Regions from separate parts of the Homo sapiens genome. Here all the other regions are linked to region 1. The links come from fine-mapping of genetic effects on gene expression. A gene starts in region 1. Each other region holds a variant in brackets. All regions are shown on one strand. Distances are between the middles of the regions.

The links.
Region 2: its variant is fine-mapped to the expression of EIF4E3 in whole blood (INTERVAL, PIP above 0.99).
Region 3: its variant is fine-mapped to the expression of EIF4E3 in whole blood (INTERVAL, PIP above 0.99).

What each region holds. Positions count from the first base shown.
Region 1 is chr3:71,721,200-71,729,380 of GRCh38, forward strand. EIF4E3 (eukaryotic translation initiation factor 4E family member 3) reads right to left here and starts at 4,203. Exons shown (of 7, transcript NM_001134651.2): 1 at 3,993-4,203. The coding sequence starts at 4,168. RefSeq lists silencers at 3,608-3,727, 3,858-3,927.
Region 2 is chr3:71,782,282-71,790,462 of GRCh38, forward strand. PROK2 (prokineticin 2) reads right to left here and starts at 2,867. Exons shown (of 4, transcript NM_001126128.2): 1 at 2,676-2,867. The coding sequence starts at 2,771. It overlaps LOC105377156 (a long non-coding RNA gene), which reads left to right and starts at 3,109. Exons shown (of 4, transcript NR_199161.1): 1 at 3,109-3,242; 2 at 3,355-3,466; 3 at 3,656-3,752; 4 at 3,936-4,146. The variant T/C (reference allele first, on the strand shown) is at 4,777.
Region 3 is chr3:71,750,907-71,759,087 of GRCh38, forward strand. GPR27 (G protein-coupled receptor 27) reads left to right here and starts at 2,949. Exons shown (of 1, transcript NM_018971.3): 1 at 2,949-5,590. The coding sequence starts at 3,144. The coding sequence ends at 4,271. It also overlaps a transcript of EIF4E3 not described here. The variant T/G (reference allele first, on the strand shown) is at 4,990.

The DNA.
Region 1 (8,181 bases):
TGAAGTCACTGCGGGTAGAATTCAACAACACCCTGTTCAGGGTATTCAGTGCGGACTGACTTGTGCTAGGCTCCAATCCAGGAGCTAAGGACAAGGCATCCGGGACGAGAACTCTGCCCTCATGAGGTTTACATCCTAGTGGGAGAAGACAAGCCAATGGTGGTAATGCTATGGAGAAAATAAAACAGGGTCAGGGGCTCGGGGTGTGTGTGTCAGGATGCTTGCGCCATTTCATAACAGTGGTCAGGCAACATAAGATGGTTTGGCTGTGTCTCCACCCAAAATCTCATCTTGAATTGTGATCTCCATAATCCCCATATATGTCAAGGGCAGGACCAGGTGAAGGTAACCGGATCATGGGGGTGGCTTCCCCCATGCTGTTTTCGTAATAGTGAGTGAGTCTCATGAGATCTGATGATTTTATAAGTGTCTGGCATTTACCCTGCTTGCACTCACTTGGTACTGCTGCCCTGTGAAGAAGGTGCCTGCTTCTCCTTTGGCTTCTACCATGATTGTAAGTTTCCTGAGGCCTCCACAGCAACGTGGAACTGTGAGTCAAACCTCTTTCCTTTATAAGTTACCCAGTCTTGGGTAATTCTTCGTAGCAGTGTGAGAACAGACTAATATGGAAGGTCTGAGAAGGTGACATGTGAGCAGAGGCTTGAAGGACAGGAAAGAGCAGGGCAAGCACTGATGGAGGTGAGAGCACTCCAAGCAGTAGGGGGTGTCAGTGGCTAAGGTCCCTGCTTGGGATGAAGGCGAAAGAGCAAGGGGACCGATGAGCAGAAAGAAGGGCATGGCAGAAGGGAGAGTGACAAGGGAGAAAAGGGTCCTGGGTGGGGCAGGAAGAGCTGCAAAGCTTTATGGTTCCTGTAAGCCCTTTGGCTTTTCCTCGGGGGGGCGGGGGTGGGAGGTGGTTACAGATGACTCTAAGATTTCTGGGCTGGGCAACTGGAAGGATAGACTTGCTCTTAACTGCTCTTATCTGAGATACAGATAGAAGGAAACAAGTTTGGGAAGGCAGTTGAGGAGGTAGTTCAGTATATGTTGAGTCTGGTTGTGTATTACATTGGACATCCATGGAGACAAAGGGGAAGGAGCACTGGATCTAAGAGTGTAAGGTTTTGAGAGTCACCAGAATTCAGGTGGACCTGAAAGCACTGTGACTGGATGAGATCCCTGGTGTAAATGGCACAAAGAAGAGGCCTGAGGCCTGAGTCTTGTGGGAAAAAACTCAGAGGCGAGCGGGTCACCATAAGATCAAAAGGAAGCAGTTAGAGACACATAACCCAGAGTGGCTTCCAAGAATCAAGACAGGATAGTTTTAAATGTCCAGAAAAGGGGAGAAAAACTCTTCAGCCTGTACCCCCAATCTAAAATTACCTTCCTCAAATGCCGAAATCCTTAACCATACAGTCTAATTTTTTAACCAAATAAGGACTTATTGGAGTTGACTATTAAAAATACTAATAACTTTACAGAGGAGTTCTCCAACTCATCCAGTGAGGGGAATGAATTTAGGTTTCTGGCTTCCCAACACAGAATTCAGACAAGCTGCTCCAGAGACTGTTTGTTGGGGTGTGGGTATGGGGAGGGGTTGGTAGCTGGGGAGCATGGTAATGACAGTGTTAGTAGTTTATGCTTAGGAAGCTCCTTCTACCAGCTGGCACCTGTTAGGTGTTGTACATCATGTCTCTCATTTAATCCTCAGAACTGCCCTGTGAGACATAGCCTATGACTATCCCATTTTACAATGAAAGTGAGGCTTGGGGCAGCTAGATGGCTTGCTCATCAGCACACAGTAGGCTGGAAAGTAGGACAGGCCGGGAGGTAGGATGCCAAAGGGGAGTTTTAAGTAGCAAGAGGCCTTTGCATGCTATGGAACTCAAAAACCGATGTCATCTTGCCAGGCAGACATTGGCTATGCTGCAGGTAAGGCTGCCTTGGAGGGCTCTCCTGAGAACCTCACCAGTCTCTAGAATGTTGTTTACCTGGGGAGAAAAGTTACTAATGAACTTCTAGATCATAATGTGTTCATAACCTCAAGGGGGAGAGGGGCACCCTATATAAAGGTAATGGATTCCCACAGAAGGAGAAAAAGTTCAATAAAAATTATGAGTTGTTTGATCGGGCAAAATGAATTCATATGTACAATATTGGAACTCATTATAATTTCTAAATTAATACAGCCATTTCTATTAAAGATCTGGACACTGTGGCAATAATGTATTTCATTTGATGATCGACCTTTAGAGAACAAAAATGTGTAAATCAATAGTATAGATATAGTTTTTGTCTTCATTAAAGTTACTATAATCTTAAGCTACTAGTCTTAAAAGATTGTGTTATCTGTAGTATTGACATTTTAGACCAGTCCTTAAAAGTGTTGTTCCTACATGTAAACTAATTTTAGACCTGTTTAAAAAGAAACTCTCTTGATACTGTTTCCACCAGTCAGCAGTATTCACAATTTAGACCACAGGTCCAGGTTTAACACCTTGAAAACAGATACCAGGTAACAATAGCACAGTTGCAGCACACCTATGAAAACAGACACGATTTCATTCTGCTAAGGTCTGCCAAAAGCACGCTTGTTATGACAGTATAATGCTCTCTTAGCATCCCATAATGAAAGTGAAAATGTTTTGAAAGAACGAAACTCACTCCATCTCCCCCACCCCCAACTTTTTTGGGTCTCCGGCAAAGAAAATGGCAGCAAGTGACAATTCTTATAGACGGGTGCTATAAGAACCCAAAAGGAAAAAAGAAATGAGCTTGTCTTAACCAAAAAAAAAATGAATATCACTTTTTTAAAACAAAATCTTGCAGTCATTTTATGCAAAGCCTTTTAAAACCAGATTTGTGTGTACCAAGCAAACTTCTCAGAACACTGTCACACATTTCTTCCTAACACTTAGCCAGAATAGACACGGTTTCATCAAAATTTCCAAATGCTCTTGGGACAACCTTGAGGTGTCATCATTGGGCACCCACTGCAGGGCAGACACTAAGAAGGGGCTTTGCATTCATCCATCTATTCATTCATAACAATTTCTGGTGTTCTTACTAGGGACCAGGCACAGTTCTAGGTCCAAAATGTCCAAAAACAAAAATCCACTGCTCTTTTATCCTTAACTGAGGGGAGGTGTTGAGGAGCTGGGGAGACAGACTGAAAGTAAACAAATTCATATATAATAAAATCCAGCTGCATTAAGCATTAGGAAGAAAAAGAAGGCAGGGCAGGAGAATACAAAACGAGGGAGCAAGGTTTCTATTTTAGATACGGTAGTCAGGGGGTCTTTCTGAAAAGATGGCACCTGGGTTGTCCCTTGAGAAAGCCATAATTCACCCCCTTCCTGACAAGGTCAGCTGCTGCTCATTATTGAATCTCCAGCGCATAGCAGGTGTGTGGCTCCACTGTAGGTGTTCAGGAAATACCTGCCCAGTGGATGAGGAAGAACTGGAAGAGGAGTCCACGGCAGCAGCGGCCGGACACGGGGTGGGAGCGCCCGCCGTGCAATAATCATTGCACCACCGCACACCTCCCAAGGGATGGGCAACTTTTCCGAGCGCTGTCACAGCTGAGGTCGTGTCCTGAGCTCCCAGGCGCCCCGCGGGGTAAGCAGGACAGCCCTCTCCCTGCAGCAGGGACGCGGCCACCCCCAGCTCGCCTACCCTCTCCCACGGCCCTGCCAGCACGCCGCGTTCCGATCGGAAGGGAACAAGGGGTAGAAAGTGTTGCCGAAACTTTTCGGGCTGCGCTGTCCTCCCCCGGCCCGGAGGCGAGGACGCCGAACAGCCGCCCGGCGCGGCCCGAAGCTGGCTTCCGACCCGGCGGGGCGAGTCCCGGGGTGCGCAGGCGGACGCGCGGAGGGGCCGAGGTCTGTGCCACAGCGGAGCGGGGCCGGGGCGAGGGGCCGCGCCGAGACAAAGCGGCGGTGGCGGCAGGACCCGGGTCGGGGCCGTGCGCGGCGGGCCCCGCGCCCCCTCACCTGTCGAGCCAGAAGGTCCAGGACGAGTGCAGCGGGACCCCGCCCGGCTCAGGCTGCAGCGCCGACAGCTGCTGCAGGCCGAGCGGCGGCTCGGGGGCGGCGGCAGCGGCGGCGGCGCGGGACCCCGGCGGCTCCCGGGCCCCGGCGGGGGGCGCGGCGGCCGGGGGCAGCGCCATTTTCTCCGCCCCGCCTGCAAGGCCGGCGGACGCGCGGACCGCGGGGCGAGCGCGGCTGAGTCACCCCCGGCCCCCGCCCCGCCCCGCCCCGCGCGCCCCGCCCCGCCCCGGGCTAGCCGCCCGCCGCCCGCCGCCCGCCGCCCGCCGCCTTCAGGGCCTGGGAGCCGCGCGGAGGGGCCGTGGGAGGCACGGCCGGGCCGGGGCCGCCGAACAAAGACAGACCCACGGAGGGATGGGGGGCCGATCCCGCTCAGGCGCGGGCCCAGCGTGGGAGACTGACGGCCTGGCCTGGAGTGGCGGCCGGGGACGGGCTAGAGGGCCCACGGGGGTGAGAGGGACCGGGGAACGGTCTGCGGGCTGGCTCTGCAGCCATGCAAAAGGGCAGCGGGATGGAGCGGCAGGCTAGGGACAGATGGAGGGATGGATGGGACAGGGGATGGAGCCCCAGACCCACGTGGTGCGAGGGAAGGAGGGATGGACAGACATACCAGCAGTCAGAAGGATGGAGTGAAGGCTGGCAGATGGCTGGAGGAGAGAAGGAGGGATGGAGGGCAGATGGAAGCACAGTTGGGTGTGACAGATAAATGGAGAGGGGAACCGATGGCCAAATGGATAAAGAGACTCCAGTGCCCGCGAGTACAGAACAAAGGGCGAGAAAGAAGAACGAACAAGAGAACCACCGACTGGGGCATGAGGTTGGAGCAGGTGGGCTTTGCATTCCTCTTGGTGAGAGCATACTTCCTAACTCCGCTGATTTGAAGGGGCCAGAGCCCCCATCCCAACCTCTGGAGCTACCATGTGACCACAGTGAAGGCCTCAAGCCTGGCTTAACGTGTGGCTAACTTCAGAGAACATTTCCCAAAATCAGCCAAAGTATCCAGATCTGCCCTAAAGCACCGGCGAGTCGGGAGGAGGAAAGCGGGCACCTGTGAACACAGAGCGCTCTGCTTCCTGTACCTCTGAGCACCCAGGAAGTCCCTTAGGCGGTGAGATTCCTGAGCCCAAAGTAGGAGGGGCCCTCCTAACACAGCATCTCCCCAGGTCTCTGTCACTTTCTTTTTCAAAAGAAAAGCAAAGGCATGAGGCCTGTGAACACACATGTCACAACCAGCATGGACATCCTCTTTACACTTGAATTTCTAGATAGTTCCTCTCTGGCTTTGAACAGTGAAGGGCGTGGGATGCCATCTCCTCATTGACCTTCTACCTGGCCTAGCATGTGTTCTGTTCATGCCTTGAGCATTCGCTGGGATGGAAGAGCTACAAAACAAGATGAGTTCAGGGGCATCAACAGCATCATAGCAGACTGTCATGAATCCCAGAGTAGATGCCCTCCCTAAAAGGTAATCAAGGTCACATAAAGTGACAATAATAAAAACAAGACCGCTGCTTTAAACTTAACTTCTATACAACATACAATGCTGGAAGCAATGACAGATTTTATAAAATCTGTCCAACACTAAAACAGGGGAGGGTGCTTTTGGTTAGATGCATTTATCTTGTTGCTTAATATCTCCTTTCATTTTTCCAAGAAGCGTGGTATATGGCATTGTTTAAACTGCTCTGAGCACTTTACCCGTAATAACTCATTTAATCCTTACAATAAGCCAATGAGGAAGATACTATTAACCCATTTTACAGATGAGGAACAGAGATAAGATTAAGATAACCCCAAGGTCACAGAGCTAGTAAGTGGGACAGCTGGGATTTGAACATAGGTATTCAGACTCCAGAGTCTAGACTTTCAACTGCCAGACTCTCCTACCTCTCTACACAGAACACTAACAAGTCCACAACGTAAAAACAAGCTGTGAATAGTAGGTCTCCCTCCCTCCCAAGACTATCAATCTTCATTCCCAGAGGAAACCACTGGCAACAGTTTCCTTCCAGAAAAATGCAAGTATGCACATGCAAGCATATATCTAGATTCATAAGTTATAAATCTATATCTTTTTTATAACCAAAATGGAAGCATTTAATACCAATGCTGTACCTTCTTATTTCACTTAACATTATATCCTTGAAGATTTTTCCATATCAAAACATATAGATCTACTTTATCTTAAGGGCTGCAAAGTAATTCATTGTAAAGAGGTAATATAATTTAATTCACTAGCCTCCAACATTTATGTGGTTTCTAGACATTTTCTTATATAAATAATGCTACCATAAGTATTTTTATATTTATGGCTTTCTTCATCTACACAAGCTAATCTCAGAATAAGTTTGGAGAAGAATTGTTGGCTGCATTTAAAAATTTGATACATATTGCCAAATTGCTTTGCAAAGTGGTTACATGAATTTATATATAGCTGATATATAAATAATGGTTGATTCTGAAAATTTATATTTACGAAGTGACACATATCTGTATAAAATTCCAAGGCATGGGTAGAAAGGAAGTTTTGCTTTCTAATGATTAAAGCTAGTCAAACTGTCAAGTTTAGCTCCTTCCTTATGTCCTTTAACAATATCCTCAGCAAAAAAGGGCTAGTCAAGAATTTTTATCTGCAGTTTCTGTAAAAGGATTGTGTACCACATGAAAAAATTCCCTCCAGAATTTAGAACTAGGAACAGTCTGGCAGTTTTTCTTTACTGAATAGCAATTATATACCTTTCTCTCTTTTTGCTTTGGCTTCCAGGCTGCTCATAATTACATTTGGTGCTCAATCACAGCACCAATATTAGCCAATGAAGAAGCATCACTATTTTTATATTTATTCCTATTTCTATTTTAAAGACCTAATAGCATATATGCACCTTACACTGAACCCCTCAAATTTATTTTGGAAGTAGGTGGTATATATGAATAGATAAAATTTAAATGACCTTAAGATTAATAAAAGAGATTATACAAAATGGCTAAGGAGGGAACAATGGTCACAACTTTCATTCCCTTCCTGTTTGAAATATGTAAGAGACTTAATTATTTTTATTGCTCTTCAGAATCATTCTTAGAAGATAATAAATTGGGGAAATTTCCCTCATCTGGGAACTGGATGGCAGGAACTAGAATTTCAAGGTAGAAAGGGGATTCAGCGATCATCTAAGCAAACCCATCACTTTACAAATGAGGAAACTGAGGCCCAGAGAGGTGAGGTGACTTACCCGAGGCCACAGCTCTAGGAAATGACAGAGGCGGGACTAGAACGTGGGTAGCTTGAGGTCCGGACCAACGTGCTGTCCCACTGCATGACACGCAACACAGACGACTTGGGGTGGCAGAAGAGAGGAAGAGAAGGTGACCCCACAGCCCCTAGCAACAAAAACAACAAGAAGGACTTGAGGCACTCATAAATAATTAAGCAATTAGCTGCAGCAGCTACTCCCCTCCCCTCCAGCATCCAGTCACCAAGGCAACTTGGGCAGGGTGCCTGCTGGTTGCCTAGTAACAGTGTGGTCTGCTCCCCTGACAAGCTCCCTAGGCATCAAAGGATTTGAGAGCCGGGAAGAACCTTAGACAGGGATCACTTTTCCAACACCTTCATTTTCCAAATGAGAAAAGAAAGGCCCAGAGAAGCTGGGTAACCTGCCCAAGGTCACACAGCTATTCAGACACACAGCCAGGCTCCATTCCCAGTTGCTTTCCATTGCACTAGGGCTGCCTCAGGGAGGCTGCAGATGGAGGAGAGGGGGAAATCGCTCTACAGTTCCTAGAAGAATGAGAAAGTCAGAGCGAGCAAGCAGGCAAGAAAGAGACAGAAACCTGAGCACTCATATGCAATTAGCAGGAGCTGGTAATCCCATCAGCCCAACTTTCATCATCACCATGGCAACATGGGTGAGGTGGGTGCTGGTTGCCTAGCAACAAGTGGTCCTCTCTCTTCTACTCACATCTGCTCCCTGGGAGTCACAGGAACAGCAGAATGATGACGTTGGAAGGGAAGGCAGGGGTCCTAACTCAGTCTCCTCCTTTACCCAATGAGGAACCTGAGGTTCAGGGACACTGGAAGTCACACAGCCACAGAGTTAGCTAGTGACATTCCCTCCATTGATGGCCTCTGTCTCAACAC
Region 2 (8,181 bases), 61 kb after region 1:
TACTGGCTTAGCATAAACATATATGTACATTACAAAATCAGCTAACAATCCTGTAAGATCCATCAAATTAAGAAATGCAAGTAACAGGTGCAATTGTCAATAGTAATTACTCAAGTCACCTGCTTTCAATATAAAAGTTGTAAATACATACAATGAAACAATCAACTATGGAGGAATTTCCATACTCTAGTAAATAGAAATAAATAATAAAATCTAAATCTATTTGCATGAAAATGGATCTGAAGAACTATTATTCTTTCCTAGAACCAACAAAAAATAGAATGCTTTGTTTGAACCGTGGGCAGTAATCTGTTTTGGTAGTGATAAGATAAAAACATCCTGTACTATATATGTAAGAAACTAAAACCTCTATCATCTAGGCACAAATTTAAATGTACAATTAGTGGAAACAACTAAAACAGTCCTTCAAAATTCTTAGTTTTGAGGACAGTCATAACTTCTCAAGATATAAAAATATGGGTACATTCTTAACATTATTTCTCATTAAAAGTAACCAACTATTTTGCTTTAAAGTTCATTTACTTCCCTCATTAGAATTTATTTCTCAGTCTATTTAAACAAAGTATCTGGATAAAAGCTAAAAATTTCACCTTGAGGTGTTTGGATTTTATAGGACAATATGTAAATGTTTCAATTTTCCAATTTTTATCTGCATGCCAGAAATCATGTATATGTAGCCATTACATCCCATAAATAAGATGTCTAGTCAATGATCTTTTACAATATAGTTTTAACAAATCTATGTGGGCATATAAATCAATTTCAAAATACCTACATACACTACCCAAAAAACTGTGGATGTCAGGTGAAAGTTTTAGCCAGCATTTTATTTCAACAGATGCTCAATACCTCGAATTTTGAGGCCCCATGAGCTTTTTTTTATGAACCAATCAAAAATCCAGCCAAAATCTTTTAAAATTCAATCACCTGGATGTTTAACATGCTATACACAATGTATCTTGATAAGTTACTGAGTTTTTCATTTGAATCCAGATGGTTCCTGTCATGGAGACATAACTACATTTTATTGCCCTGTTGCTTTAGAGACATTTTTAAAATTCTCTTTTTGTAACACTGAGTTAAAATAACAACAACAAAAACAGCACACATAACTATATAATAAGCCCAGTCTAAGCCTCTCTAACAGATAGACAGCCAATGTGATAAAATTTTATTTTGTAACAAAAGCTTCAGTTCTTGGAAAATTTACAAAGAGTTGCATAGGTTTATATATTTTTAATTAGACAGCTGTTTCCTAATGCCCTTCATCCTTAACCCATTGCAAATCTATTCAGATAGTGTTGTCCTGTGAATGGAACAAAAAGATACTTATATTGCAAAGGGATCTTGGGCTCAGAGGATTAGGAGAAACTTTAAATGAGCCAGCAGGAGAAGAGGGAGAAAAAAATCCAATCATGTTTCAATTCTCATGTATTAGAAAGACCTGCAAAAAGTTTTTCTCAACCACATGGACTGGCAAAGCTATGCAAGTAATTTTTTGAAAAAATCTCTTTTCTAATAAATATCACAGAGCTTACAGTTAAATATCTGTTGGATATATACAAATGCTGTCATAGCAAAAGGACTTTCAAAATTCTATAAACCTAATAACTAATATAGAGAAAATAGAGCTTGATTTTTTCAAGACAAAGATACTTCCTTTAAAGTCAAATGATATTATCTATGTATCAACATTTCAAACATAGACGTTTTATTTAAATCCCATTATGTGCACTTAAATATTTGAAGTAATTTAATGAAGGTGTGAAATAATTCCTCACTTAAAAAACAGTAAAGAAGTTGAACAACCAGGAAATGATAGCAGTTTTGCCTTGTTAATGTAAACTAGACTATTTAGTATTGTACTGCAAACCCAATTTTTTCAGATCCACACAAAATTGTTGAGAGTGGGAGAGAACTGAACTAGTTCCTACTTACAGAAAAGATGAAAACATCGTCTCTAAGTTTAAACATCTACACAGCAACCTACTCCATCATTATGCTGGAGCACTGGAGGTGCTTTGCCAGGAATTAGAAATTTAAAACTTTTATGGGGATACCTCAAGACCCTGAGCGCGGGGGAAAGCCCCGGAACCCAGAAGGAAGCTCCCACAATTGCTTTTCAAAGCGCTCACATGGCCCTGGACCAAGCGATTTCAAAGGGTTTCTGCGGAGGACGCATCGGGGAGCAAACTCTTTGACTGTAGGATTAAGACTCTGGGCACTTGGGGAATTCGTCTTGGTCCTTTGCATTTCAGGAAGGGGCCGTCAAATTTTAAGGTTCGAGGTTGGAGAGCCTCCAAAAGTACTTGAGAAGACTCAGAGAGAAACTTCTTTCAGCCTAACAGAAGAAAAATGCGAGGAGTGAGGCCGTGGGTGATGAGGGAGAAGTAAGCGGGAGAAGGTGGTAATAAAGGTGGTGGGCGACATCCTTGTCACTGTTTCTTCCAGGACGCGCCCAGTGTCCCCAGCCGTCTGCTGCTTTTGGATCTGGGTATTTTCCCAAGTGCACCAAGGGGCGACAGGGGCAGGTGTCCCCGCCCAGGGCGACCCTCCCTTTGCCTCTAGCCTGCCCTTCAGGGTCCCCGTCCCAAGCCCCCTGGGCACATCCCAGGCGCGCATCAGGGGCAGACAGGTGCGCCCGGGCCGCTTACCCCGGTGATCACGGCGGCGTCCCCAGCGCGGGGCGTGAGCAGCAGCGGCGGCAGCAGCAAGAGGAGCAGGAGTGGGGCGCAGCACAGGCTCCTCATGGCGCCCTCGGGACTGGGCGGCCGCCGGAGGCAGTTGGGGGCGCGGGGCCCGGGTGCGCTGGGTGGAGCGCGGAGCGGCGGGCGGACGGGCGCGGCGGCTCCCGCGAGCCTCCGGGCCGTTATAAAGGCTAGCCCCGCCGTGACTCACGCCGGCGCCCGCCCGGCAGCACACGCGGGGGGCACGGCGCGGGCACACACCCCACGCCCCACGCGCACACGCGCGCCCGCCTCGGCCCGGCCGGCTCCCAGACGAGCACGTGCTATGCGCGGCCCCCCGCGCCCCCGCCTCGGGCGCCACGCAGGCAGCGCTCCCGGCGGGGCGCCCCGCTCTGCGCCGTTCCCTCCGCCGTCGCCCAGCCACCGCCTTTCGCACGCGCCGGAACCGCTTTTGTGGTCTCCGAGACACTCATTTGCTGTCCTGGTTTCCAAAGCTCCACGTGCTCAGCGCCGAAAACTTGCAAATCATTTGCTGTACAGATGTTTAGGGGTCGCCTACTACGTGCGGGGCGCTGTGGACACATAGGGGGCGGGGGGTGGGTGAGGGGGACACAGCAGCCCCTGAATCCATTCGTTTGTTCAGCAGGTCTATACTGGGCGCCCGCTGCGTGCCAGGTACTGCCACCGGCTCTCTCCTCACGGTGGAATAACTTAACAGAGAAGACAGACATCAATCAAATACCCTGGAAACGTGGAAGGCAGGGGAAAGAACAAAGGGAGAGCAAAATCGCCCCAATCCCACATCACCCGCGACGTGAAAGGATTTGTCCTTCCAGCTGCGGGACTCCTATTTGTTTATTTCAAGTCAGAGGCCTTCCCTTTATGCCCACATCTGTTCCCGACCCTCTCCTCTGATTTTCCTCACATGTATTTCCTCCCCTCTTCAGCCCCGCGCCAGCTCCAGGCACAGCCGTTCAGGGTGATGCCAAAGGGAAATGAGAACGCCTGGTTTCGAGTGCCAGCCTGAGGCCCCTTAAGCCCTAGGTACGCAGCTCTCTCTTCTTTCTTAAACTTTCCAGCCCAGGAAAATCACCCTTCGGTTTTACAGATGCGATAGGGCGTTATTGTGATTCCTTCATTCACGTAAACATGAATTGAGTGTCTAGTGGGTTCCAGGCACACCAGGAAAGAATAAGTGACAGATTTGCCCTCCATCTCTCATCCTAGCCTGGCTCCAAAAACTGCAGCCTGTTTCCCTCAACAAAAATGACGTCAAGAATACCTAGATGTGACCACACCGAACTTGCTTGCCCGTTTTGGGAAACCCAACTTTCTTCCTGAATAGTCAGAACCTCTGGCTTTCCTGGTCTCTTAAGAACCGCAAACTATTGAAAAGCAGATGCGTCTTTCAGCCTCTTTAATAAATGCAGTAAGGAGAGTTGGGACAGAGTTACTTTCAGACTGTGGGGCTCCCCCGTGCCAAAGCATTCAGACGAAATGTGGGGGATAGCGGGGGGAAGGCAGGCAATTATCTGAATGTTAAACAGCTGAATATTTGGAAACCCCAATCTTTGGCTGATTTTTAAAAACCTTTTTCACACGTGTTCTCATGTTTAAAAAACGCCTTGAACAGAAAACACAAAAGGAGTCAAACCCTTTTTTCAACTTAAAAAAATGTTAAAATTGGACTCACAGTGGAGTAAGTAGAAACAGTAGCAAGTGACAGACTTGTGGAAAGTTTCCTTTTCCAGTCTCCATGCCAACGCTAGCTCGGGAATGCTGCCGGGTAAATGTAAAAACCAGTCAACATGGATTTTAACATTCCTATGACTTTCTTTTAATGGTCTATTTCATATTCGCTACTATTGAATGCCAGCTTGGGTATTCCCTGCTTCTTCAAGCATAGAAAATATGATATGTCTACACAGGAAAAATCAGATTTCAAAAGTGGCTGGCTTCTTACACAGCTGTTTGGAAAACAGTCCTCATAAGGCTGTTTTGAAACAAGTTTAAAAAAAAGAAATAAGTTTGGAAACACTTAAAAATAGGGTTGTTTAGTTTCATGTTC[T/C]TTTGGAAATTTTAATTGCTTTAATGCTTTAGGAGAGAAATGAAGGCTCTTGATATGTCATCTTTGTATCTGAGGCCAAGTTTGAAAAATGAAGTCTGACTTCAATTGTTATAAAGGGAAAAATGAAAAAAAAAAAGAGTTTGGATTAGTCCATTAAAAAAGGTAGTTGGGACAACTTAGCAACAATGACATAGAAATGAAACAGTAGTTTATTGATTCTTTTCTATTACTGTAACCTGTTGATATTGCCACATGATCACTTCTGCCCAGGCATAACTGTATTAGGTGAAATGAGCCTTGTGTGTGTAAAGTGTAGCCTACCATATTCCAGCAGACCATCAAGGCTCAGCTTAAACGAAAATGCAATCTAGGAGCGTCTATAGAACCCAATGTTTGTGAGACAGGCTGATCAGGATTGGAATCCTGTGTGACCACTGGGCAAGTTACACAACCTTTTGAAGCCTCTGTTTCCGGTCTTGTAAAATGGTTATAAAATACCAACCTCATGGGGTACAACCCCTATGGAATTTAATAATACCTGCAAAATGCTTATCACAGTGCCTGGAACAGACTGGGAGCTCTGTTAGGGTTACCTCTTATTAAGCCTTATTATTTGGTCTCCCCTGACAATTTCAGCCAATGCTGATATAAGTCTTTTCTGTCCTGCCCACTATATTAGATTGTACACTTTTCATGATTAGGATCCTTGTGTCTAATTTTCTATGCATCCCTCTTGGCACACAGCACGATAATAGGCATATGGCAGGCATTCAGTAAGTGACCAGCAACAGGAATATGTCCCATGAAGGACAGTCCAGAGACAGTTACGAGAAGATCATATACAGTACAGACTCATGTCATGTATATGAATCCGTTAAAGGTAGTCACCAAAAAGCAAGAGAGATGGAAGCTTTACCTGGTGCAGATGATTCAGCCTGTCTCTTTACTTGGGGGCCACGTGACTGAAATGAAGTGAGCTGGGAGACACAGGCCTGTCTCACGGCAGTCAATTTGGGACTCAGGCTGACTGATAAGGCTCCATTTCAACATGTGCTTCATGATTGCCAGTGTAGTGGCCTATACTGTGACCCCTAGCAAGTTATTTTCAAGGCCTAAGCCCTGGTACCTGTGGACGTGACCTTATTTGGAAATAGGGTTTTTGCAGACGTAATCAACTTAAGATGAGGTCATGCTATATTAGGGTGGGTTCTAAATTCAATGGCTGGTGTCTTCATAAGAGAAATGGGAGGGAGAGCTGGATACAGAGACACAGGCTAGACTCCCCCCACCCCACCCCCCCCACACACACGGGAGAACATCAAGTGAAGATGGGGGCAGAGATTGGAGCAATGCTTCTACAAGGCAAGGAACACCAAGGATTGCCAGCAGCCATCAGGATCTGAAAGAGCAAGGAAGGATTCTTCCCCAGATCCTTCACAGGGAGCACGGCCTTGTCAGCCCCTTGGTTTTGGACTTTTAGCCTCCAGAACCACGAAAGAATAAGTTTCTATTGTTTTAAGCCACCCAGTTGTGGTGATTTCATTATGGCAGACACAGGAAACTAACATAGTTGGGTGCAGCCAGAGGGTTGTACACCAGCTTTCTCTGCCTGGAATTCATGCCTGTCACTTTTGCTCACTTTTTAGTGACCAAAACAAGCCACATGACAATCTGTCTTCAAGGGGACAGACAGTGCAAGTCTGTCACTGGTTTCTGAAGACAACAAGGTATCAGGTGAGCAGTGCTATATTCTACAGGAAATGAATCATTCATGGCTTGGACTCCTTAATGAGCATAATGAACTTTGAATTATATTAGTAATTGCTATTATAAATAATAATGTGTAATTTCCTTTGTATTTTTTCTAGTACAGCATTCTTTATACCAGAATTATACAAAGACTCTGAAAGTGAGTAAATGTGTAAGCTAATATTTTCTTTTAGGTGGGTAGAAAACCATAATTTATTCATTCAACAGGTATTAACTAAGACTTACTATATTCCAGATATTGTGTGCAGCATTGGGGGTACGAGGGTGAGCAAAACAGACATGAACCCAGCCCCCTGGGAGCTTACCATCTCATGGGAAGATGCACATGAATCAAATAATCATACAACTTTATAATTACAGAAGATAAATTTAGGGTCACTATGAGAGAGCATATGAGGAAACCTGAAGCTTTCCTTACAGTTCTGGAATATGGGATGAGAGCTGAAGGTTATGCAGAATTTAACTGAGGTGAAGAATGAAACAGGGCTGGGTGCAGTGGCTCATGCCTGTAATCCCAACACTTTGGAACGCCGAGAGAGGAGGATCGCTTGAACCCAAGAGTTCCAGACCAGCCTGGACAAAACAGGGAGACCCTGTCTCTACAAAAAAATTTAAAAAATTAGCCGGGAGTGGTGACGGGCGACTGTAATCCCAGCTACCTGAAGAATCAAGGTGGGAGGATCACTTGAGCCTGGGAGGTCAAGGCTTCAGTGAGCTGTTATTGTACCACTGCACTCCAGCCTGGGTGATGGCGAGACCCTGTCTTAAAAAAAAAAAAAAAAAAAAAAAAAAAAAAAAGAATAAAACAGCAGACATGGAGGATGGCTGGGCATTCCAGACAGTGCAGACAAAAGGGTAGCTAATGTGGCCCAAGGAATGTGCCTAAAGCGAAGTCTGGAACAAATACGGAGCCAGAGGGATGGCAGGGATCCTTTGCAGGGTCTTATGTAGGCCACACTAAAGATCTTGGTCTTCATGGTTGGTCGGGGAAGGAGAAAAATCATAAGAATGGGGCAAGTGTGACATGAGCAGCTTTCATAAGGAAGACCTCCCTGCAGTGTGACTCAACCTGTCCACATCCCAACACCTTCTGGCAACCCCCAAACCCCTTTCACTGAAGGCAACTCTATCCTTCCAAAGATGACCCTGGAGTCATCTTTGACCCTTCTCATTCTCTCACACCTAAGACCCATCTGTCTGAAAATCTTGTTGCCTTTTGAAGGCAAATCTACTTTATATTATTATATTATATTATATTATATTATATTATTATTTATTATAATATAATTATATTTGTGATAATGTAATATTTTATATATAAATAAATACAAAATAAAATAAAACAGAATATATTTTAATAATAAACCCTCTGTCATGCTACCCTTCTTGTTCTGAGCCCCTGTCACCTCCAGCCTGGATTACTGTCACTGTCATTGCCTCAAGACTGGCCTCCCGGGTTCACCCTTGCCCTCTACATTCTATCATCAACACCTATTTTTTTTTAAAGTAAGTTAGACTCTTTGCTCTAAACCCTGCAGTAGTTTCTCGTTTCTCTCGCAGAGACCTTCAGATCTTTGACTTTGTTTACTACTCCTACCTCTTGTCTTCCTGCCAGCTCTGCTCCTGCCACACTGC
Region 3 (8,181 bases), 30 kb after region 1:
GCGCCTGCCACCATGCCCAGCTAATTTTTTGCATTTTAATAGAGACGGGGTTTCACCGTGTTAGCCAGGATAGTCTCGATCTCCTGACCTCATGATCCACCCGCCTCGGCCTCCCAAAGTGCTGGGATTACAGGTGTGAGCCACCGCATCCGGCCTCTACAAATAATTTTTTAAAAATTAGCGGGGCATGGTGGTATAAGCCTGTGGTCCCAGCTACTCAGGAGGCTGAGATAGGAGGACGGCCTGAGCCTGGGAGGTTGAGGCTGCAGTGAGCCATGATGATGCCACTGACTCCAGCCTAGGTGACAGAGTGAGACCCTGTTTCAAAATAAATAAAGTCAGACTTCCAGCTCTTACACTTACTTGAAAGTAAGTGTAAAGTAAGTGTAAGTGGTGAAAGCGTGAACAAATTAACCCTTCTGCCTCCTCTGCAAAATGAAGACAGTAACAGCACATACCACATCTGGCCATTACAATGATTACATTAAATAACACATGTCGAGAATTTAGCACAATGCTTGGCATACGGCAAGTGCTCAGTAAAAGGTGGCTGCCATTAGTATTACCATAAAGCAACCAGAGTTGGTGAATTTGTGTGGGTTATTAAGAAGGCATTCCCTCCTCTGGGCAGAGGCAGCCCAAGCGCTAAGGGCCACAGCAAGGCAGGATCGAATTCTCTACAGCCATGGGTCTAACTTTAAACAAAGAAATAAGAAACCATTTCCTACCCTCCCTTGCTCAAGTGCTCACTCTCAATTGATAGCCAATGATATGTTTAAGTGTTTGTTTATAATGTAGGGCTTCTAGAAAGCTCTTCCTACTTAGATGGCTGGAATATTGCTGCTCTTTTCCCTTTTCTTCTTTCTGCCTGGAATGAAGAAATGATGGCTGGGGCGTCGGCAGCCTACTGTGATCATGAGGGAAGGGCTAAAAGATTTTCAGAGATTCAGTCCTTGAGCCAATAAATCAATGTCAGCAACTACTGACCTCCAAACTTCTTCTTTCACGAGGAAAATAAACTCATGTACACGTTTTTTGCTACTAGTATCAAACTGCAATTCCTAACCCATACACCCTCCAAAATCTATTTTCTATCAACATACATTTACAGATGTGCCTGGTCAGCCACTTGCTGCTGGCCACTTAGGAGTCCCAAGTCAGGTGCTCAATAGTTGATTTTCTTGAAAAATCACTTAGATTTTTAAAAAAATATCCAAACTGTCCCCAAGGGCCTTACTATTCAAAGTAAGGTCAGCAGACCAACAGCATTAGTCTCACCCCGGAGCTTGTTAGAAATGCAGAACCTCCGGCCCCATTCCAGAACTACTAAATCAGAATCTTCATTTTAACAGGGTCCCCAGTGATTTCTGCACATAGTGAAGTTTGAGGCTCTGGACTAGGTTTACCGGCTCTGCTCTGTCATCCCTCCTCAACACTGCTGCCAGAATAATGTTCCTGGAGCACACCTAGTCATGTCGCTCCCCTTCTCAAAAGATTTCAAGGGCTCCTGACTGCCTGCAGACTAAAGTTTCGACTTCTTAGCCTGATCATTAAGGCCCTCTATGATCTTGCACTATCCTGAAAATGCCCATCAAGGTGCCTGCCTTGCATGTAATCAGTAGGCAACAAATAATTTTCTGCACAGAAGAAAAAACAAATGAGTGTGGGTGAGAAACAATGCGTTGCTTAATTCTGGCTTTACCATGCTAAGCACTGGGGATGCAGTGGTACCAAAAACCAGGCATGATCCCTTGCCTTCAAAGAGCTTAGAGCCTAGTTAGAAGAGCATGATTTTTAAAAAGAAATGAAAGTATATAATGACAAATTATAAGTGCTAAGAAGGAAATGACTAGAGGGCAGGGATACAGAGTAAAACAGACGGGTTAGAAGGAGGCCCTACGGAGAGGGAGCCTGTTGTGGGGCTGGTCCAGGCAGAGGTACCAGCACATGCAAGGTCCTGCGAGACAAATGCGGTGTGTCTGAGAATCATAACAGGGGCTGCCCTTTCAGGCTTACCCAGAAAATAGATATCCTGGGAGGAAGGTGGCATAGGGTTCACCTTCCAAGTCACTTAAAGATGAAATGCTGCATTTCTTTTCCCTGATATAGGTCCTTCACCGGGATCACGGATGAGTTAGCGAGCAGGGGATGCTGCGGAGTCGCTGTGAGTCCAGCACTGGAAATCAGACCAAGCGAAATTTGAATCCCAGCTCCGCTACTTCCCGGCTCTCAACTCCCTTGACCTCCAAGCCTCTGCTTCCTGAGGTATAAAGTGGGATTAAGGATGGCAACAACTTCGTGATTACTGTTGAGGGAGATAATGCTTGCCAAGCTCCCCAGCACACTGCCACCCACATCAGTGCGCACCTGAGTATCAGCGGTTTTAGGATTACGATGACTATTACTATCGTAAATTACTCCCAGCTTTCGGGCAGAAGGCTCATTCCAGATATTCCTGTCCCCTCTGAGGCCTCCCGACCCTGCCAGCCCAGGCAACCTCCCCCGCGCACGGCCACCGTGACCCCAGCGCGGGCGCCGCCGCCGGACCCCCGTTACCTGGGGCCAAACGCGACTTGTCGCCACCTTGCGTCCTGGGCCCTGCCTCCCTCCCGGCCGCCTCCCGACCCCGCGGCTGCTGCGGAGGCGCCCCCAGCCCAGCCGGGCCCAGGCGGTGCGGGATGCCTCGGCGGGGCTGGCGGCGGCGGCCGCGCTGCGCGCTCCGGCGGAGGGGAGGGGGCTCCGCGGCGGCGGCGGCGGCGGCGGCAGCGGCGGCAGCGGCGGCGGCGGGCCCGGCGGGGGGCAGAGCCAAGAGGCGCGGCGGCAGCAGCGGAGGAGTAGGAGGAGACGGAGGAGGATGCGGGGGGCTGCGGACGGTGGCGAGGCCCTGTCCGCAGTGAAGCCCGCGGCGCCTAGGGCGCAGGGAGTGGCCGCCTCCTCCTGCGCGCACCATTCCTGAGATGGCGGCGGCGGCACAGCGGCGGCTCGGGGAGCCCAGGAGGGGCCGGCCGGGAGCGGGCTGAGCCCCGCAGGACGGGGAGCTCGCCCAGGGCCGGCGGAGCGGCGGAGCTCGGGCCGGGCGGCCTGCGGGAGCGGCGAGGCAGGGGACGGCCCCGGGGCGGAGCGCACGGCCTGGTGAGGCCGCGATGGCGAACGCGAGCGAGCCGGGTGGCAGCGGCGGCGGCGAGGCGGCCGCCCTGGGCCTCAAGCTGGCCACGCTCAGCCTGCTGCTGTGCGTGAGCCTAGCGGGCAACGTGCTGTTCGCGCTGCTGATCGTGCGGGAGCGCAGCCTGCACCGCGCCCCGTACTACCTGCTGCTCGACCTGTGCCTGGCCGACGGGCTGCGCGCGCTCGCCTGCCTCCCGGCCGTCATGCTGGCGGCGCGGCGTGCGGCGGCCGCGGCGGGGGCGCCGCCGGGCGCGCTGGGCTGCAAGCTGCTCGCCTTCCTGGCCGCGCTCTTCTGCTTCCACGCCGCCTTCCTGCTGCTGGGCGTGGGCGTCACCCGCTACCTGGCCATCGCGCACCACCGCTTCTATGCAGAGCGCCTGGCCGGCTGGCCGTGCGCCGCCATGCTGGTGTGCGCCGCCTGGGCGCTGGCGCTGGCCGCGGCCTTCCCGCCAGTGCTGGACGGCGGTGGCGACGACGAGGACGCGCCGTGCGCCCTGGAGCAGCGGCCCGACGGCGCCCCCGGCGCGCTGGGCTTCCTGCTGCTGCTGGCCGTGGTGGTGGGCGCCACGCACCTCGTCTACCTCCGCCTGCTCTTCTTCATCCACGACCGCCGCAAGATGCGGCCCGCGCGCCTGGTGCCCGCCGTCAGCCACGACTGGACCTTCCACGGCCCGGGCGCCACCGGCCAGGCGGCCGCCAACTGGACGGCGGGCTTCGGCCGCGGGCCCACGCCGCCCGCGCTTGTGGGCATCCGGCCCGCAGGGCCGGGCCGCGGCGCGCGCCGCCTCCTCGTGCTGGAAGAATTCAAGACGGAGAAGAGGCTGTGCAAGATGTTCTACGCCGTCACGCTGCTCTTCCTGCTCCTCTGGGGGCCCTACGTCGTGGCCAGCTACCTGCGGGTCCTGGTGCGGCCCGGCGCCGTCCCCCAGGCCTACCTGACGGCCTCCGTGTGGCTGACCTTCGCGCAGGCCGGCATCAACCCCGTCGTGTGCTTCCTCTTCAACAGGGAGCTGAGGGACTGCTTCAGGGCCCAGTTCCCCTGCTGCCAGAGCCCCCGGACCACCCAGGCGACCCATCCCTGCGACCTGAAAGGCATTGGTTTATGAGGGAGGCCCCGCCACATAGACCCCCAACCCAGCCTTTCCCTTTGGCTCGGACGGTGACGTTGTATCTTTTCCTTCTGGCCCCTGTTTAATTTTCTAAGCTGCCTTCAAAATGACTCGAAGTGGACAGACACTTGGATTGTACTGACTCCTTTGGGGGTGGGGTGGGTGAGGAGTAGGATGCTCAGCCCACTCCAGCTCCGCACATTCGTCCTCCTAACTCGACTTTCTTCCTGACAATAGGCCCTGCAGTCTTTTTGTAGCGGTACTGACGTCTTTTATTCCATGTGTGGTTCCTTTTTTTCTTTTTCTATAAAGGCTGTACTAATTTTCTTCATGCAACGTTTCCTAAAGACCATGGCCAGTTTTCTACAGAAGCTATTTTTGACAACCTCAAGTGGCATTACATTTTGCAGTGAAGTAGAGGAACCTAGGGGGACTTCTTCACAAGTTAGATTTCTTGAGGATCTTCTGTTGGAAGCAGGAGAAAGTGGGGGGTGGGGGGAAGTTGTCCGAAATGCCCTCTGAATTGCCGGCTGCAGGGTCCTTGTGCTGCGCTGGTTCTTTGAAAGTCTCAGTGTTGATATTGAACTTAAAGAGCAGAGATGGAGATCAGTAGCAAGGCAGTCATTTTTTTAAAGCAGTAAGTAACAAGTAAGATTTGGTTCCCGGTTTACTTTCTGCTGCTAAAAACCACGTCAGTGACAACTGCTCTCTGTAT[T/G]ATAGCAATCTTGAATGGAAACATTTCTGTCAAGTTGTAAGTTTTAAAAGAGTAAAGTGTTTTGGTTAGTAATGATGTGGAGAAAAATACAGTATTGCATGTGTTCGTGTGTATAGATTGTGGTTCGAGGATTGGGAGGGCTCTGAGAAGCAGAGTACTACATCAAAATTGTTTTAAGTATTTTTTGCCAATAAAAAATTAATTTTATGGAAATGGCTTGTGCTTTGAGAAGCCCAGTTTTATTCTGTCTTATGAAACTAATTTCCACTTTGAAAATTGTTCTTCTGTTGTTTATGGTATAAATGAATGGAATATAATGATATCCTCCTTCTAGGAAACAAAGCATTTCCTTAAAATGTTTGCTAGGTTAAGCTGTGCTGTTCTACTGATGGTTGTTTTAAATTAATAATGAGAACTATAATTTAAATAATATTTCTTTGTTAGACATTATAATGTTAAACTGAAAGACTAAATTCTGCAAGTACTATATAATATTTTTGGCTTATAATGCTACATTTTTATTAATGTACCTTCCGTTTTGAGGATTTATATCTGTATTTCTCTTTGCATTATACAAATATACCAGTATTTTCATTCTGGAGTGGTTGTTTTGTTGTGGTGGTGGTGGTGTTTGAGGCTGTAATAATACATGCGTCGAAGTATGTTACATGCCTCTAAGTATGTTATGTAAGGATAACATGCTCTATGATCCTTTTAGCACGTGTTCTTCAGTTACAGGTTTCATAGTTTGACCATCAGCATATCCAAGAAAAGTGGAGGCTTAATTTAAAATGCAAGATAAAATCTGCGAAACTTTTCTTTAAAGGGAAGAAGCAGTAGACATATATACGGCTTTAAAACTGTTTTTTTATTTGGATGACAACATTTCAATGACTATTCGTTAAATGACATAAAAAAGCTTTTAAGTAAACATATCAAACTCAAGTACAAGCGATCATTTTGATAAAAGTACTAGGTAAAAGTGGGGGTGGTAGATTATATTGAAATTTAGCTGAGTATAATATAAACTATTAAATGTTCAGTCCAATGGGAATAAGTTATAAAAAGAGTGTGGCCAATTTAATTGATCTCTGGTAAATAGGCTGCATGATTTTATTTTGTTGTGGAAGTTAATCAGTCTGTGAAGACAGTCTCACACTTGGAAAATATGAGACAGTTACCCTATTTCTCCCCACATCATGAATCCAGGTTGGCCTCAATCATCCAAGGGCCACTGATCGGAAACCTCAGCCAACCCCAAGATAGAGGAGCCCAGAAGTACCTCTCTCCTCATCTAACCCTCCACCTGCCCAAGTGATCTCAGTTCCAAATAGAGGTCGAACCAGTCTACGATGGCTCATGCCTGTAACCCCAGAACTTTGGGAGGCCGAGGCAGGAGAATTGCTTGAGACCAGGAGTTTGAGGCCAGCCTAAGCAACATAGCGAGACCATGTCTCTACAAAAAATCAAAAAATTAGCTGGGTGTGGTAATGTGCACCTGTGGTCACAGCTACTGGGGAGGCTGAGGTGAGAGGATGGCTTAAGCCCATGAGGTCAAGGCTGCAGTGAGCCATGACTGTGCCATGGCACTGTAGCCTGGATGACAGAGCTCTCGAGACCCTGTCTCAAAAAAGCCCCCAAAACAGAGATCACCAAGTCTCTGTGATTTTCCCACCTGGCATGGCACAGGAACCAGCCCATCATGGCTGACTCCTGAGCCACTCCAGCTTTGGGCAGCAGCTCAGCTGCACCAGAGGTGACGTGTTGGCCTGACATAGCCTTGAATTCAAGGGATATTTTGTCATATGAGAATTCATAAGCCAGAGGTTCTCAAATTCTAACATTCATACAAATTAAGTGTCTGTGTGATCCAGAGTCTTATGAGGACATGTTGAGTTGGGTCCTGGGGAAAAGCATTTCAACAGGTTCCTCAGGTGGTTGGAGACAGACCTCCAGGACTTCGTTCAGACATGATTTACTTCAGACATGATGCGTTCAAACTTGGCTACCTGGGTTTTTTATTTTTATGTTTTAAAGTTCTGATTAGATGGGGGAAGGCAAGATTTCTAGTGAGTGTGCAGGTGAGAGTAGCAAGAAATAACAGCCAACTAAAGGAAACGAGAACCAAAAGAGCCAGAGAAACAAGCTATGTAGCAGAAAGTGGGGAGGTGCAAAGGGCCACCCCAACAGCTTTTAGGATTGGTGAATCTATTAACATGTACTTTGATAGTTAATTACATTAATCAAAAATTATAAAAAAAAAAAAAAGGTTAGTTGTGTCCACAGTACTCTACTTATTGTACCAGCACAGGCACCATGTATTTAGGGAAGATTTCATTAAAATTGCTCATTTTATTTATTTGGGAAGTTAATTTAGCACAACTTCCCCACCCTCCCACGCAGTTGTCACTATACTTGAAGCAATGTAGGCTTCCCGTACATAGATCTTTGTCTGTATGTTCTAGCATGGAATTGCTGGGTCAAAAGAAGCATTTTTAGGACTTTTGATATCTTGTCAAATAGTTTTGTAGAAGGACCATATGTCTATATGTCTGTTTAAATGTACAGTACACCTGACATATTCTTTTTTTTTCTTTTGAGACAGAGTCTCGCTCTGTTGCCCAGCTTGGATTGCAGTGGCGTGATCTCAGCTCACTGCAACCTCCACCTTTGGGTTCAAGTAGCTGGGATTACAGCTCAGCCTCCCAAGTAGCTGGGATTACAGGCGCCTGCCACCAGGCCCAACTAATTTTTGTATTTTTAGCAGAGACAGGGTTTCGCTATGTCGGCCAGGCTGGTCTCTAACTGTTGGCCTCAAGTGGTTTACCAGCCTTGGCCTCCCAAAGTGCTGAGATTACAGGTGTGACACATTCATTTTTTAAATGAAATATTTTAAGCAAAGTGGGGAAGCATGTAACAAATCAGTAACAACAGTGATAATCTCTGTGTCCACTACTCAGCCTTACCAAATGCCATATTGGTTTCTACTCTTCCTTTTCTCTTTTCCCTTCCTTCCTTCTTTCTTCCTTCCTTCCCTCCCTCCCTTTTTTCTCTTTCTTTTTTAAAAAGAAATAAAACGGCAAAATTATTTCTCCGAAGTCTTTGTTCTCACCATCAGCCCTCTACATTCTCAAATGCCCTGCTCCCTAACAGGTGACAGGGTGCCAAGTCCTAGGGCTGACTCAGGGTTAT